Linked DNA regions of Homo sapiens. The protein of the gene in region 4 interacts with the protein of the main gene of each other region in a pairwise test. Each region holds a gene or a part of one and is shown on either strand. Other genes may lie near its edges.

Region 1 (3,500 bases), on a different chromosome or scaffold from region 4:
GAAAACGACCCTAAATGGACGGCTGCTTAAATAACCTTAAATAACATCATAAAGCAGAACTGTGGGGAAACAACAACAACAACAACAAAAAACCCTTAAGTTTCAACATGGAAACATCAAGATACACTTGTGGGGATACACAAGTGGGGAAAAAAAAGTTGAAGGACACTGTACATAAAATACTCTCATTTATGTAACAAGAGAAAAAGAATAAAAAGGGCAGATGATGGCCGGGCGCGGTGGTTCACGCCTGTAATCCCACCACTTTGGGAGGCCGAGGCGGGTGGATTACGAGGTCAGGAGTTTGAGACCAGTCTGACCAACATAGTGAAATCCCGTCTCTACTAAAAATACAAAAATTATCCGGGCATGGTGGTATGCGCCTGTAACCCCAGCTACTCAGGAGACTGAGGCAGGAGGATCGCTTGAACCCGGGAAGTGGAGGTTGCAGTGAGCTGAGATTGCGCCATTGCACTCCAGCCTAGGCGACAGAGTGAGACTGCATCTCAAAAAAAAAAAAAAAAAAAAAAAGCGGATGATAATGGGGAAATGACTACATGTATGCACTGCGTGTTTTGACTTTTATTTATTAAAAGGATGGAGAAAATGTAAGGGTAGAGCCAAGTAGATGAGAGACAGAAAAACTTTTCATTGTCTATCTTTCCATAACTTTTCAGATGAAATATTATGAACAAACAGTTGACCCCTGAACAACACAGGCTTGAAATGCATGGGTCCACTTACAGGCAGATTTCTTTTTCAACCCAATGCACGCATACATAATTTGAAAACACCCATATTTGGAAGGCTGACTTTTCCTATAGGTGGGTTCCACAGGGGCAACTGTGGGACTTGAGAATGTGCAGATTTTGGTGTATGCAGTGGTCCTGGAATGAATCCCCTGCATATATGGAGGGACAACTGTATTAGCAATGTCACAGTTCTGTCATGCTGACAAAGTATGGGACCCACTGGATGAGACGATTCTGGCTGTGGCAGGCTGGAATACATGGTCTGGAGGTTTTTTTTTGAGGAGATGGAGAGTGCAGCTCCCCATGAGTGCAGGAGCACTGGGCTCCCAGGCAGCAGTGGCACGGACACAGAGGACAGCTCCACGGCACTCCTGCTGAGGTCAGCTCACCACTCCCATGAGCCACAGAGGGCAGGGGCAGAGGGACAGGCAGAGGTGTCCACACTATGCTCTCCTTTGAAAGTGGCAGTTTGTGTGTTTTATGATAAAAGATTCTGTGTAAGGTTTGACTTGGAACACTAGAGTATGAAAGCCACAGCATTAGCCAGATCCAGAGGAAAGGACAGGATGTCCCTTTTCCACCACCTCACTCTGCTGGTGAGCTGCTGTCTTCTTCAGAGGACACCAAGTTCATCAGTTTCCTGCCTCCTCCATTCGTCTGCACCCTAATCCTTCCTCCCAGCCTGTGGACCTGCCTACTCCAACCTCGCCCAACACCTCCTGTTGTCCAGGAGCATGCACTTTTTGTTAATCCAGGCACCTTTCTATCCTCCCAATAGAGGCTCCAGCCTCTCTTAAGTTTTCATTGCATGCCCTCTACAATCCTCCTCCCTCCTCTCCATCTCACTACCATTCACTCCGCAACCCACCACAATCTGGCTGACTCCTACCACTGAAAGCCATGCTCACGGCTCCACGACCCACTGAGCCACACCTCAATAACCATAATCTAGGGCTACTCTTTGGCATATGAGGAAAATTAAAGCTGGCGCGCCGACTCCAGCCCTCCTGCCTGGCTTCTCGGCAGTGCATGTTTGCTTCCACTCCTGCCCTCCACCATCTAGACTCCCTTCTCCAACATTGACCTTCTTGCAATCTCTGCGTCTGAGTCAGGAAAGAAGGCACGAGGAAAGATCAAACAGCAAATTCCTGGGAGCAAGGTCACCACCTGACACTCCTGCCAATGACAGATAAGGTCTGGAGCAATGATTCTTCCCAGGCGCTACAAACTTAGAAAGCAAGATGTCCCCAGATGGTGCCCAGGAAATCAGAAGCTCGAACCAGATCATGCCATCAAGACATTTCAGCCAAGCAACTCTAGATTATCAGACACTAAAAATCAGACTGAAGCCCCAGCTGCATGTGACTAAGCTCCAGGCTCCCCAAGCATGGCGGAGGAAGAGGAAGCCGCGCAGACACTTACTGTGTGTGACGTGCTCGAGGAGAGGGCTGCATGTGCAGAGAGGCTGCTCTGGTGGCTGGAGAGCGAACTAGAAGACAAAACAGAGCGCCGTATGTCCACCTGAACAAGTGACTCCAGATGAACAAGACGCACGTGGGTCAGTGAGCTAGATTCAAACTTATCATAGTCCCTAGCACAGGACCGGCTTCAGACCCATCCTCATTCCTTATCCCCACAGAGCCCAGTGATGGGGTCCTGGTGGACGGGAATGACTCGCCATGAGGTCTGGAAAACTCCAGAGCCAGCTTCCCTCAACGACATCCATTTGCTCCTCAGATGCGAAAAGTGAAGACAGAGTTGCACTAAGAACACGGTCATCCTTGACAATCCCATTCAATCTGTGAACGAGGGATCAAAGTTCCTATGCTCAACTCCACATGCCAATTCCCATCAAATCCACTTTTGCTCCTAGCTAAAGAGTGATGGAGAACACTCCTCAGAAGACACAGGTAGCAACGCCACCCATTTTCCTACACCTTGTTCTAATAACATCGTTTCTTCAGCCATGGAAAGTTCAAGTCAGACACCTGCTCAGAAATCCATCATTCTCATTCCACCTCAGTGACATGGGCCCAGCGATGCCCAGAGAGGCTAGGCTCAGGCACCCTCTGGAGGGTGAAGACAGGTAGGAGGGAGCTGCTGGCCTCACCCTACTCCCAGGGGACCCAGTGCTCTGTGCCAGCAGAGGCGGTACAAGCAGGCAAGGTTTCCATATCTGGTGGTTTTAAGGAACAACCTGGCCAAAACCTAAGCTACAGTCGTAATGCAAAAGCCCAGGACATCACGTCAGAGACAACAAGTGTGCTCTGTTCATGAAAGCAACCTTCTACAGGAGCTCCAGGACTTGCCCCAAGGTACTTCTCACTTTGGGCCCACACCTTCCCCATACCTGCTAAGCTGAGAGAGAGGGCTGCTAGTCAGGTCGCCAGTGTGCTGGGATGTGGACGGCAGAAGTGCAGTGCAGGAGGTGGTGCTGGGCAGGGAGCTCACAGACGGGAGGGCAGAGGGAGGGCCTGTTGTCTTTGGAGCTGGAACAGATGAAGTAGCTGTAAGAAGCAGATCTGTTTATTTCTAAAACCAATCCTAAGTGCCTGAAAATATGCTCAATATCTTGTGACATGTCAGCCTCAGTTGAGACGTCCATAAAGTTACATTCCCCAGGAAAATGCCAAGCATATCGCCAGATAGCCCTTTGTCTGTCAAACAACACTATCAAAGGACACCACACCATGGTCAGCTGTTCAAGATGCAGCAAAGAATAGGAAATGACACCTTTATAACCCAACC
Region 2 (3,500 bases), on a different chromosome or scaffold from region 4:
TACATTCCCCAGCCAGAAGACTTAGAATCCATGCTTGAGCCAAAGCCTCCATTAAAACCACTGCCCGACCCTGCATTGGATGCTGATCCCCAACCAATTGCTGCACCAGAATTAGAGCCACTATAAGAGTTATTTCCAGAACCGAAGGCCTGGTTTGGCTCCCTCTGCATGTTGCCTTGGTTTTGGTTATTACCCGATGGGCCTGACTGGTTCTGCTGGCTGGCTAACATGCCCATCATACCCCAACTGCTCTGTAGTGCTGCCTGGGCGGCAGCCATCATGGCTGGATTAATGCTGAACGCACCAAAGTTCATCCCACCACCCATATTACTACCTTGATTGTTTCCCAAACCAGCTCCACCCCCTCTGCTATTACCAAATCCACCCTGATTCCCAAAGCCACCTGGATTACCACCAAATCTTCCACTTCTTTCTAACTGTCTATTGCTATTGTGCTTAGGTTCGGCATTGGATATATGAACGCTGATTCCTTTAATGATCAAGTCCTCTCCACAAAGAGACTGCGCAATCTATAAGAAATAAGGGATGTAAACAAAGAAGATTAAACCACTGATTCATATATTTAAAGTAGCAACAAAACTTAGATTACAAGCATTAATTTATCTAAAGCCAGAGGAAAAATAAGCAATGAACACTCATTTCATTTAAACCCCCAATACAGCTTTTAGTTTTATTAACAGCAGCAGTGATATTTCAGTCGATTTTCAAAAGACATAGGCTGGGCATGGTGGCTCATGCCTGTAATCCTAGCGCTTTGGGAGGCCAAGGTGGGAGGACTGTGTGAGGCCAATAGTTCAAGACTAGCCTGGCAGCCTAGACAACACAGGGAGACCCCACCTCTATCAAAAAAAACCACAAAAAAGCCACATTAGCTGGGCGTAGTGGCATGCATCTGTCCTAGCTACTTGGGAGGCTGAAGCTGGAGGATCCTCCCCCTGGAGGCTGAGCCCAGGAGTTCTAGGGTGTAGTGAGCTATGATTACACCACTGTGTTCCACCAGCCTGGGCAACAGAGTGAGACCCTGTCTCAAAATAATAATTTAAAAAATGGGCCGGGAGCAGGAGCAGTGGCTCACGCCTGTAATCCCAGCACTTTGGGAGGCTGAGGGGGGTGGATCACCTGAGGTCAGGAGTTCAAGACCAGCCAGATCAAAACAGTGAAACCCCGTTATCTACTAAAGATACAAAAAACTGGCCAGGCGTGGTGGCTCATGCCTGTAATCCCAGCACTTTGGGAGGCTGAGATGGGCAGATCACCTGAGGTCAGGAGTTCGAGACCAGCCTGGCCAACATGGTGAAACCCTGTCTCTACTAAAAGCACAAAAAAATCAGCCAGGCGTGGTGGCAGGCACCTGTAATCCCAGCTACTCAGGAGGCTGAGCCAAGACAATCGCTTGAACCCATGAGGTGGAGGATGCAGCGAGCCAAGATCGCGCCATCACACTCCAGCCCGGGCAACAAGAGCAAAACTCTGTCTCAAAAAAAAAAAAAAAGTATATAACATTCCCAAATGCCACATACTGAAAATTATCTAAAGGCATATTTACTTTTAGATTTCTTAAAATGTTGTATTTGTGATATCAGATACAGGTATCACAAACATCTAGGCCCATACACCCTACGTCTTACAAGGTCAGAAAACTTAGCTAAGAATAGCAATTAGCTGCATGGGCAATGTTCAAGAGAAATTACCTAATTACCTGGGACATATTTTTTTTTTTGAGACAGAGTCTCACTCTGTCACTGGGCTGGAATGCAGTGGTGTGATCTCAGTTCACTGCCACCTCCGCCTCCTGGGTTCAAGCGATTCCCCTGCCTCAGGCTCCAGAGTAGCTGGGACCACAGGCGTGCACCACCACACCGAGCTATTTTTTTTTTTTTTTGTATTTTAATAGAGACGGGGTTTCACCATGTTGGCCAGGATGGTCTTGATCTCCTGACCTCGTGATCCACCCGCCTCGGCCTCCAAAGTGCTGGGATTGTAAGCATGAGCCACCACGCCCGGCCGGGACATATCGTTAAGGAGAAAAATACCTGATCATCTGCAAATGTAACAAAGGCAAAGGCCCTGAATGGCTTGGGGATGAAGACATCCATCACATCCCCGTACTGAGAGAAGAACTCCCGCAGCTCATCCTCAGTCATGTCCTCTGTACAGCGCCCCACAAACACTTTTCTGCTTCTCAAAGGCTCATCTTGGCTTTGCTGATCAAATCAAAAGGAAGAAAAAAACTCAGAAATATGTTATGAACAATGAAAAAAACATTAAGGTAAGGGATATAACAAAATCATTCGCCTTGGATAGCAGTGAACCATTAAAAAGTAGACGTACCCTTAATTTTTTCCATCAGCATTTCTTTTTCTTGTAAGGCTTCAGTGAAGAGTAACGTTTTAAGTTACAAAAGTACACAGTCATGCATCACATAATGATGGATATAAATACATCATGAGCCATTACACAATTTCATCATCGTGGCCAGGTGTGGTGGCTGACACCTGTAATCCCAGCACTTTGAGAGGCCGAGGCGGGTGGATCACTTGAGGTCAGGAGTTCAAACCAGCCTGGTCAACATGGTGAAACCCCACCTCTACTAATACAAAAATCAGCCGGGTGTGGTGGCAGGCACCTGTAATCCCAGCATCTTGGGAGGCTGAGGTAGGAGAATCACTTGAACCCGGAAGAGGAGGTTGCAGTGAGCCAAGATTGCACCATTGCACTCCAGCCTGAGCAATAAGAGTGAAACTCCATCTCAAAAAAAAAAAAAAAGGGCCAGGTGCGGTGGCTCACACCTGTAATCCCAGCACTTTGGGAGCCCGAGATGGGCGGATCATGAAGTCAGGAGATCAAGACCATCCTGGCTAACACGGTGAAACCCCATCTCTACTAAAAATACAAAAAATTAGCCAGGCGTGTTGGTGGGCACCTGTAGTCCCAGCTACTCGGCAGGCTGAGGCAGGAGAACGACGTGAACCCGGGAGGCAGAGCTTGCAGTGAGCTGAGATTGCACCACTGCACTCCAGCCCGGATGACAGAGTGAGACTCTCTCTCTCAAAAAAAAAAAGTCGTTGTGCAAACATCATATAAACCCAGATAGCATAGCCTACCCCACATCTAGGCTAGATGGTATAGCCTATTGCTCCCAGGCCACAAACTTTCAAGTTACTGTACTCAACACTGTAGGCGACTATAACATGATGGTAAGTATTTGTGTATCTAAACATAGAAAGGGTACAGTAAAAACAGTGTTATAATCCTATGGGACCACTGCTGTACACGAGGTCTGCTGCTGACTGATCAACTTTGCCATGTGATACATGACTGTGTTTGGATTTGAGAAAATTAATAAATAAGCAATCTCTTGGCAAAGATGATGATGTTCCAAATAAGCCAATGTTATTTGTTTGCTTGGAAAAAGTTAGGTCTTTATAACAATTAATGTATGTATTCTGATTCTCTTTATGTTTTAACATATAACTATG
Region 3 (3,500 bases), about 16 Mb from region 4:
TCAAAATACTTGATTCTCAAATGAGGTGCAGGTACCATAAATTTACAGACAGTGCTTTTTATGAGCTCACCAGTTGGGAGAGTGTTTGCCTATATGACAATGTGTGTGCACACAATCCTGTTTACATATCACCTGGCAGATAAGGTTTTATAGAGTCCAAGTTACAACCTCCTCCTAGTTTGCTGAAGTGCAGAGGAGGGTCAAACATGATGTAAATGCCATAGAAGATTACTTTACTCTTGCATGAGTATGCTTTCTTATTTCAAAAGTATTTGTGTTGCTGCACTAGTTAGGATAATACAGAGAGTTTACATAACTTGTATTCCATCAGAGGGAAGAAGGCAAGAATACAAGCAAGGCAGCACGTATTCACTGCAAAAACTTACAAAATAATATACCAGAAAATAATTTATAGGACATTTTATACAATAATATACACCAAAAATGGAATACTCAATATTTTTAAAACCCAGCAGAGCAACATAATACAATACTATTAATATTGGAAGATTAACAAGAAAGACGGCCTAAACAAAACTGAGGTAATGGTCAGTAAGTACCAGGAGATAATGTGAGAAAGGGGAACAAAATTAAGGGCACAAGAAAATAAAGTTTGCCATACACAGTGACAGAAAAATATATTTTCTTTGAACGTTAGAAGGATAGATGCTATAGGTTAGTAGCTACAATAACTGTCACGAAAAACTTCTGCTACCTAACTCATTCAAAACTTGTCATGTTAAAGGGCACCTAAGTGTAAAAAAAAAAAAAAAGAGTTCCTCTTAGCCCAAATCAAAACATCACAATCGGGGAAACCTCTGCCCTCTTGAGTCTCAAATTCTGAGTACACTACCATGAATTTTCTGGAAAGTAATTTTCAGGTAGGATACAATTTTTGCTTACATTGTGGCAATTATCATTACATTTTCATTACTCCACAAATGGGATGCATTAAAAGTTACAGAAAAATCAATGAAACATTTCTGCTAACATGAAATATGTCAAACAAAATATAATGCTTGTTGCTTTTTTGTCCATAATTGTTCTCTCTAAACGTGTTTTGGTACATTTGGGATGGTAGTAATGCGTAATACAAATATTTATAGTACATTAGCCTGAAAGTTCAAATTATGAGCGTTATAAAATATATTACTACACTAATAAAGACAAATATCCATAAATATAATTATAAAAGAATAAAATAAAAAACTTTCCATAAGATTTGTCTAAAACCATTCTTTTTATTACTTCTGTAATTTTAAGCATTTATATATTTTTAAAAATCTCAATGTAATTACCGTTCTTTCAGCCAACATTTAAAAAATTCTGTAAAACTGACACTGTATATCACTTCTTAAAAAAATTTTGAATGAGTACATTTATTTTATTAAACTAAATTACATGAAAATAAAATGTGAACATAATTGATGACTTAAAATTCTTATCTTAGAAAAGGAAGTTCTATATGTAAGGTCCTAAAACAGAAATTATTATTTCTATTACCATTTCTACAATGTATTGCTTTCAATGCTTTTATCAAAATAAGGAGGGCCTGCTTCTGATAACCTTGGAAGTATGACCAGAACTAAATCTGTTATTTGAAGCAATTAAGCTGCACAGATCTAAATCTCTCACAGAAACTAATCATTCGAACTATTGAATTACTCTGAAAATACAGAGCAAGGAAAGTCAAATAATCTATCTCTCCCCTAAAAATAATAGCCTGTCTTACTTCACTATTGTCACTTTACCGATGCAAGTATTTAAGCTGTTCAGATCCTAATCTATGTGTTATTTTCAGATAACTACAGTTTAAAGAATTAACATTCACTCCCACATTTACCTACTTACGTGAGTTTCAGAATTTTAGTAAAATATGTTTATTGCTTAACTTTTAATAGGAAACAAAATGAGTGTTAGTGTTAGTCATCAGAAACTGTCACTCAAGGTATGTGCAAAAAAGTAAAATCCACTTGACATTTCAGAATGAAAAACAATAAAGGCACAACATTATTCAAAGAAATGTGCGTCCTTGGACTCCATAATGACAACAAAAACAGGAGTCATAGTAATGTTTACTAATATTTCAATAATCTCAGCACTGGCCTTTCCCAGGACTCCTAGGCAACTGACTTAGGTATGTTGAAACTTACAGGCATTTGACATGTAATCTTGTGGCTAAAGAGTTTCTGTTTAATCTTCCTCTAAGTGTAAAAGACAATTCAGAAGTCCTGAAGTCTAGTCGTAACATTTTTGACAAAGTGTCACTTCTGTTTACCAAACCCTCTTAAAACGAAATCCGCAAGGAAAAATATTGCCTTTGGCGGTTCCCACCAGGTACATTTTTTTATACTTATTTTCACATGAATTTATTTGTGCACTGAAAAATATATGTTCACATTTTACTGCAAGTAAAGCATTTTTCTATATGTTGCAAAATAGAATCCAGGACCTCCAAGGCATTGTGTAATATTGACATCCTTGCTTCCCATCTATTTACCACCTTATAAAAGTTGAGTAGCTAGAAGAAATAATAGCTCATTTTAACTACAGCAGTGCTTCATCTGACCAGGCCACAATGAATTTACCAACCACATAAACTCACAAAACGGTAAAAACTCATAAACCCCCTGGGAATAGAGTTGAGTAGCTCTCTCAATCCTAGCCCTGGGGGAAAAAATTTACCAGTTTAGCTTTGTTGGCCATAAAATTGTAAACTGACTGGCAGTCACAACTAAATCAAGACATAATTCTCAATTATCTTTTCTTTCAAATACCAGGGTTATGAAAATACTCCCCCCCGCCCGCCCCCTGCCCCACTTAGTTGGATTGCCTGAGCAGCACAGAGCTTCAGCAACTAAAGCAACTTTTCCTTTTTTCCTTTTTGCCATAATATTATTTCTCTTTGCTTAGCCAGCTTTATCAGTGGTGCCCTAATGCAAAGACTAGAATACTGCTTTCTAACTGCTCACTAAATTACATCCTAAAATAAAGTACATGTTTATTGTCCAAAAGCACCATGCACTATCAGTCCTCTAGCTATAGGCCTCTATCGTTTCTCGCTTAGCTAAGGAAAAAAAAATCCTTTTAACTTACTACCAAAGATCATTCAAATCACAGCCAATAGATCCAAATTAAGAATGAATACATTCAGAATGTCTGCCTACTGTCAGTACCAGTTTTTGTTATGATGGCTGTCAAGTTTTAAAATGTGACAATGGGAATATATTTTCCGAATAAGTTATTCCCCTGAGTAAACCCTTTAGAAATCCAGCCATCGCTATGGGCAATGGAGGTTCCAAATGATGAACGCTCTTCACACTTGAAAGGGTTAAGTGACTGACTGCAAGGCCAAAGGCACCAGACTGCAAAAGAAATGTTGCTTTAGTGAGCTCTGAAAGGTTTCTAACAAGTACCAAATACTTGTTGATCTGTTCACAATAAACACCAGCAGGATTGTCAGGCTCCTTTCACTGTCTGGGGAGATGCATTTACATACT
Region 4 (6,037 bases):
GTGGTGGAGAACCACAGCTGCAGAGTAGGCAGCTGCCTCCAGGATGAGTTACTTGAAATTTGCCTTGAGTGTGTTACCTCCTTTCCAAGCTCCTCGTGATAATGCAGACTTCCTGGAGTACAAACACAGGATTTGTAATTCCTTACTGTAACGGAGTTTAGAGCCAGGGCTGATGCTTTGGTGTGGCCAGCACTCTGAAACTGAGAAATGTTCAGAATGTACGGAAAGATGATCAGCTATTTTCAACATAACTGAAGGCATATGCTGGCCCATAAACACCCTGTAGGTTCTTGATATTTATAATAAAATTGGTGTTTTGTACTGTGGTTTCTTATGTTTCCGGCACACCAAACGGCCCACTGCCTTTTGCAGCGCACTTTTCAGCTGCGGATGTCTCCTCTTTTATCATCCTCAATGTTTTACCCCCTAACTGCATCACCTTTTCCCTTAAGCTTTTTAATTCCTATGAGGCCCCTTCCACTTCCCCTATCCCCTTAGGCCCACCCCCAAGAATGTGCAAGACCCCAGCCACAGGGCCCATCAGGGCACTAGCGGCCGCAGCTCAGAGCCGTGGCCTCTCCGAAGTGGCAGATGGGGCGGGCGCGGCCAGAGCAAGTGCCAGGCGGGAACAGAGGGACTGGGCGCGCCTCACAACTCACCACCTCGCCCGCTGGTCCTTCCTGGCTCGCCTGGCTCTGAAGCTGCACCTGGAGGGGAAACCTCAGAACAGTAGGCGGGATTGCCTAGTAAATATCTCCCATTCAGGGAGGCCCAGGTCGTGTGACGTCGACAGTTGCTGGGTAGATGAGGCCAACACAGGTTGCAAGAAGAGGCGGGGTTTAGAGGCGTGAAACTCCGCAGTGCTCAGCCAAGCAGGGAGCAACGCTAGGAAGGGCGGGCAGAAAGGGCACGCTCTTGTGGGTGACTACAGGTTAGGAGACCGTTGAACCTGGAGGGGCCCTAGGATGGACCCCGTGGAAAGATTCAGAGACTGCGCCCTCTCCCTGGCGCCGCCTTCCCCTACACGCGGCGGGTATATTCTGTTGCAGTTGGCCCAGGACCTGTTTCCAAGACTCTGCCCCCTCGCACTTCCGTCCCTCCTGGTTTTGTAAAGTGATGCTCATAGGAACCCCCACCCCGCGTGACACTACTCCCAGCTCCTGGCTGACTTCTAGTCTTCTGGTTGAAGCTGCGCCTTTAGATGACACGACCCTACCCACCCCTGTTTCCAGCGGATGCCCGGGCCTGGAGGTACCTCTTACTGTAACCCATCGCCAAGTGGGCTTTTGAAGGCGCCTGTTCCTTTCTCGCTTTCTTCGGAAGACCCTTGACCCATCATTCCCCCGACCCCCATAACGGGAGAGCAGAGAAGCCGGTCCCCAGTGTGATGGTCCTGGTCCAGGCACTAACTGTCCTTTTCTCGGAAAAGGCAGGGGGATGTGGAAAAGAGTCTTGTTCCCTCCCCTTCGATCTGTGGCTTTCGCTTTCACTTCCTCCTCCGAGAGCGGACAGATCTCTGGGTGCTGGGCGGTCATGGCGCTACTAGATGTATGCGGAGCCCCCCGAGGGCAGCGGCCGGAATCGGCTCTCCCGGTTGCGGGAAGCGGGCGTCGCTCGGACCCAGGACACTACAGTTTCTCTATGCGATCTCCAGAGCTCGCTTTACCCCGGGGAATGCAGGTCGGGGCAGTAGGGAAGCCCCTAGGGATGCAGGGAGGCGGGCGCTGAGGAGTGGAGGGTCGCCTGAGAGGAGGAGGCGAGAGCGGGAGCGCGGGGTACAGGGTCGGGGGTAGCCTTCAGTCCCGGAGAGCGCCAGACCCAAAGAAGAGGCCACATGGGGATGGGGCCTGAGAGGAGGAAGTGCAAGTTAGGACAAAGAGTTACAGGTGAGGTGGGGGCTCCCAAAGGAAGACAAGAGAACTTTCCTGCCCTTGTCCACACACAAATGGTGGAGCCTTTTTCATGGGGTTATCACATGATATAGGAGGTGTGTGGTGTCTTGGGAAACCTATGAAATTTGCCTGCTGGCCTCCTCTCAGCAACTCACTGTTGCGCGACTTAGAACAAGTCACTTAGTCTAGGTCCCAAGCCCCTCTTCTGTAAAGTGAGGATACTGTTACTAAACGTGTTTTGTGAGGGTTGAATGCTTTATGCATGGAAGAAACCCTTTAAGTCACTCTCAAAATTTTTTAGTAATGGTAACATGTGCTTGCTTTCATTTCTGTTGTGCTGGAAAATGGAAAAGGTTGATACTGGCATGCCTCTTCTTTTCCTTCTCCCAAGCCATTTCCTTCTAGAGATTGGTTATTAACTGTTTCATTTATTGATGGTTAGATCATTTCTGCATATCTCCTCACCCTCATACTCCCTAAAACCTTTTCCTGGAGCCTCTTACTACAGAATTTTTCATTGCCTTTCTCAACCTCTTTTCTCTTATCAGCCCACAGAATTCTTCCAGTCCCTGGGTGGGGACGGAGAAAGGAACGTTCAGATTGAGATGGCCCATGGCACCACCACGCTCGCCTTCAAGTTCCAGCATGGAGTGATTGCAGCAGTGGATTCTCGGGCCTCAGCTGGGTCCTACATTAGTGAGTGTATACGCTCCAGCAGGCAGAATCTGGGGAGCTGGGCTCTCCTTTCCACAGGAGGCCAACTCTGCAACAAAGTGGAAGTGGATATTGATTTAGGACACACTGGGGGATCTATGGGGTCATCCCTTCTCTCCCAAAGCTCCATCTTCTTCCAGGTGCCTTACGGGTGAACAAGGTGATTGAGATTAACCCTTACCTGCTTGGCACCATGTCTGGCTGTGCAGCAGACTGTCAGTACTGGGAGCGCCTGCTGGCCAAGGAATGCAGGTAAGCGAGGCCTCTCATCTTCCTTTCTTAGCCTAGTGGTTAATCCCTGGATCTCTCAGATCATTGCTCCTTACTCTTGTCCTATGTGGTCCATCTTAGTGCTAATAGTATATTTCACAAAACAGCTTTTTGGTGATAAGACCCTTCTCCCAAATCTCAGCCTGTGCTCCACTCATAAGCCAGATAGTACGTCAGGTATTTAGCACTGACACATCCACCCTGGCGGGACAGTATCATTTACTAGGCTGCCTTTGTATGTTTCAGATACTTTAAATTCCAAATCTTTCTCTGATCTTTAGATCCTACAAAATAATTCCTTTCCAATGCTTATCTCTTTAATCATTTCCTGCCCCATCAAGTTGGAAAGAGCTAACCTCTCTTTCCTCACTCCACCTTGTCCTCACCCAGGCTGTACTATCTGCGAAATGGAGAACGTATTTCAGTGTCGGCAGCCTCCAAGCTGCTGTCCAACATGATGTGCCAGTACCGGGGCATGGGCCTCTCTATGGGCAGTATGATCTGTGGCTGGGATAAGAAGGTGGGTGCTCTCCATTCTTCATGTTCCCCCACCATGTTCCCTATGGATGACAGATCTGTTTCCCATCATATACTCCTACTCCCTCCCTGACAAGATGCATGGCATATAGAGTGCTTGGTTATAGAACTGTTTCAGTATATCCATGGACTATTTATTGGCCCAGATATGAATCATTGCATGTGTTTTGTAAGCTTGTCCCTTTTGTTAAACAGTTGATTTCAAGTTTGTTTTTCCTTTTTCATTTCTAAAGTTCGATGACTTTACCAAAGTGGTTTCCTAATTCCAATGTTCTTGTGGTAATATTAATTCTTTTGTTCACTTTTTATGTCTCATATTTGAACCCCCATGTTACCAACATCTTCCTCTCCAATTTCAGCCTGAAATCTTTCATCTTATAGGGTCCTGGACTCTACTACGTGGATGAACATGGGACTCGGCTCTCAGGAAATATGTTCTCCACGGGTAGTGGGAACACTTATGCCTACGGGGTCATGGACAGTGGCTATCGGCCTAATCTTAGCCCTGAAGAGGCCTATGACCTTGGCCGCAGGGCTATTGCTTATGCCACTCACAGAGACAGCTATTCTGGAGGCGTTGTCAATAGTAAGAGACCAATGCTCCCACCACCATGCCTGGGAGGAGTCGGCGGGTGGTGGGGGGGGTGATTTAAGATTGAGAAACCAGCCTGGCCAACATGGCGAAACCCCGTCTCTACTAAAACTACAAAAATTAGCCGGACGTGGTGACGGGTGCCTGTAGTCCCAGCTACTTGGGAGGCTGAGGCAGGAGAATCACTTGAACCTGGGAGGTGGAGCTTGCAGTGAGCCAAGATGGCGCCACTGCATTCCAGTCTGGGCCACAGAGTGAGACTCCTTCTCAAAAGAAAAAAAAGAAAATGATTGAGAGACTCAAAGGAGGGAGAGTAGTAGGGAGGAAATTTTCAGAGTCAGAAGAAGGGCATTAAAGGCCCAGTCATATGGTTTTAAGCTTGCGCATGTGTCTTGTTGCTGCCTTCAACATAACATCAGTGACAGGAACTTGCTGAGGTGAAAGGTGACTCCATGTTCTTTTCTCATTTGTCCACAGTGTACCACATGAAGGAAGATGGTTGGGTGAAAGTAGAAAGTACAGATGTCAGTGACCTGCTGCACCAGTACCGGGAAGCCAATCAATAATGGTGGTGGTGGCAGCTGGGCAGGTCTCCTCTGGGAGGTCTTGGCCGACTCAGGGACCTAAGCCACGTTAAGTCCAAGGAGAAGAAGAGGCCTAGCCTGAGCCAAAGAGAGAGTACGGGCTCAGCAGCCAGAGGAGGCCGGTGAAGTGCATCTTCTGCGTGTTCTCTATTTGAACAAGCATTTCCCCCAGGGAAGTTTCTGGGTGCCCCACTAAGTAGAATAAAGAAAAACGGTTATAAATACCTCTGTCTTGTGGCTGAATGGGGTTGGGCCTGTGGTTGTTGGGTGGGGCAGAAAGTAAAGAGACGCTTTTTCTGGAGAAGGGGCTCAGACCCCTATCTAAGAAATGTGGCCTCACCACATAGTTCTTCCTGGGGTTTCCTTCCACACTCATCTCTCCAAGACCTCAGGAAGGCTGCTCATTGCTGTCCATGGACACTTGTTTGCAATTTCACATAGGTTAGGGTCCTTTCCATAGAGAGGCACCTGGGGACTCCTGTGTGTTCCATTGTTAATGGTTTGAGGAACAGGGAGTAGGGCACCTAGGATAACTGTTTTTGACTTTATAGAGTAGGATGAAAAAGCTTCCACTTCACTTTAATATGGTAATCATATAAACACCATACCATTTATCCCAAATAACACTTTGGAGATATTGGATATTGAATATAAAGACAGACATTAAGGGTCTAATTTCATGATGTGTCATGCTGAATTGCAAGATGGCAGGACTATAATTTTAGAGGAAGAAGAGATCAGGAGGACTCCCCTAAGTGAGGAGTGTGGGGAAAATGTAAAAGATCCAGGTTAGAAGAAAGAGACACACATCATGAGATTTTCGGAATCATGCTGGAACTATGGACCATGTCACTTTCCAGAAAATAAAGGAAACAAATGCTTGAAAGTAGGAGCATGAGCTTGAGCATGGAGCTTTTTTCATTAGAGAGAGATTCTTAAAATGCCAGAATGAATAGAGTTGTAAAACTTTAGCGAGCCCCTACTTAAAATCCCTCCTCCCCACCACCACTATTTTAAACTTTAAGTGACTCCTTGGTAGTCACACAGGTAACATTTCAAAATGGTGATCTGGAATCCAAGCGACCCTTCCTTTGGGGAATTTGTTTGTTTGTTTGTTTTTAGTTTGGGAGGTGGTTTCAATCTGAAGAGTCCTTTCTGGAATAAACGAATCTTTCTGTTGCATAGGAAGGCTCTGGGTCAGGAAGGATATTTAAAAACCTAATTACTGTTCTAAACAGTGTTAAAATAGAACAAGAACCAAAGCTCAGTACGGGGCATTTCCCTCATAGGCTGAAGGTGCGCCCAACATAATTTGGAGTACAGACTCAGAGGCACCTGAACACGCGCCAGCTCAAGGTGCTCCGGCTGAGAAGGACGGATGAAGATGAACGCTCAGGGCCTACTAAATTCAAAGTCTGTACGTGAAAATCCCCTTTGGCCTGGTGAGA

The links. The genes of interacting proteins can lie anywhere in the genome.
Region 1: the proteins of PSMB8 (region 4) and UBAP2 interact in binary tests that used the Homo sapiens proteins (3 or more experiments, as listed by UniProt).
Region 2: the proteins of PSMB8 (region 4) and TARDBP interact in binary tests that used the Homo sapiens proteins (3 or more experiments, as listed by UniProt).
Region 3: the proteins of PSMB8 (region 4) and ATXN1 interact in binary tests that used the Homo sapiens proteins (3 or more experiments, as listed by UniProt).

The regions. Positions count from the first base shown.
Region 1 is NC_000009.12:33,930,388-33,933,887, forward strand, and holds part of UBAP2 (ubiquitin-associated protein 2), read right to left. Parts: intron 3,242-3,500; coding exon 3,103-3,241; intron 2,242-3,102; coding exon 2,175-2,241; intron 1-2,174. UniProt on the Homo sapiens protein: Recruits the ubiquitination machinery to RNA polymerase II for polyubiquitination, removal and degradation, when the transcription-coupled nucleotide excision repair (TC-NER) machinery fails to resolve DNA damage. May promote the degradation of ANXA2.
Region 2 is NC_000001.11:11,019,154-11,022,653, reverse strand, and holds part of TARDBP (TAR DNA-binding protein 43), read right to left. Parts: intron 2,226-3,500; coding exon 2,055-2,225; intron 531-2,054; coding exon 1-530. UniProt on the Homo sapiens protein: RNA-binding protein that is involved in various steps of RNA biogenesis and processing.
Region 3 is NC_000006.12:16,754,961-16,758,460, forward strand, and holds part of ATXN1 (ataxin-1), read right to left. Parts: intron 1-3,500. UniProt on the Homo sapiens protein: Chromatin-binding factor that repress Notch signaling in the absence of Notch intracellular domain by acting as a CBF1 corepressor. Binds to the HEY promoter and might assist, along with NCOR2, RBPJ-mediated repression. Binds RNA in vitro.
Region 4 is NC_000006.12:32,839,493-32,845,529, reverse strand, and holds PSMB8 (proteasome subunit beta type-8 isoform E2 precursor), read left to right. Parts: upstream 1-1,482; 5' UTR 1,483-1,533; coding exon 1,534-1,680; intron 1,681-2,440; coding exon 2,441-2,588; intron 2,589-2,746; coding exon 2,747-2,858; intron 2,859-3,266; coding exon 3,267-3,396; intron 3,397-3,794; coding exon 3,795-3,999; intron 4,000-4,482; coding exon 4,483-4,571; 3' UTR 4,572-4,813; downstream 4,814-6,037. UniProt on the Homo sapiens protein: The proteasome is a multicatalytic proteinase complex which is characterized by its ability to cleave peptides with Arg, Phe, Tyr, Leu, and Glu adjacent to the leaving group at neutral or slightly basic pH.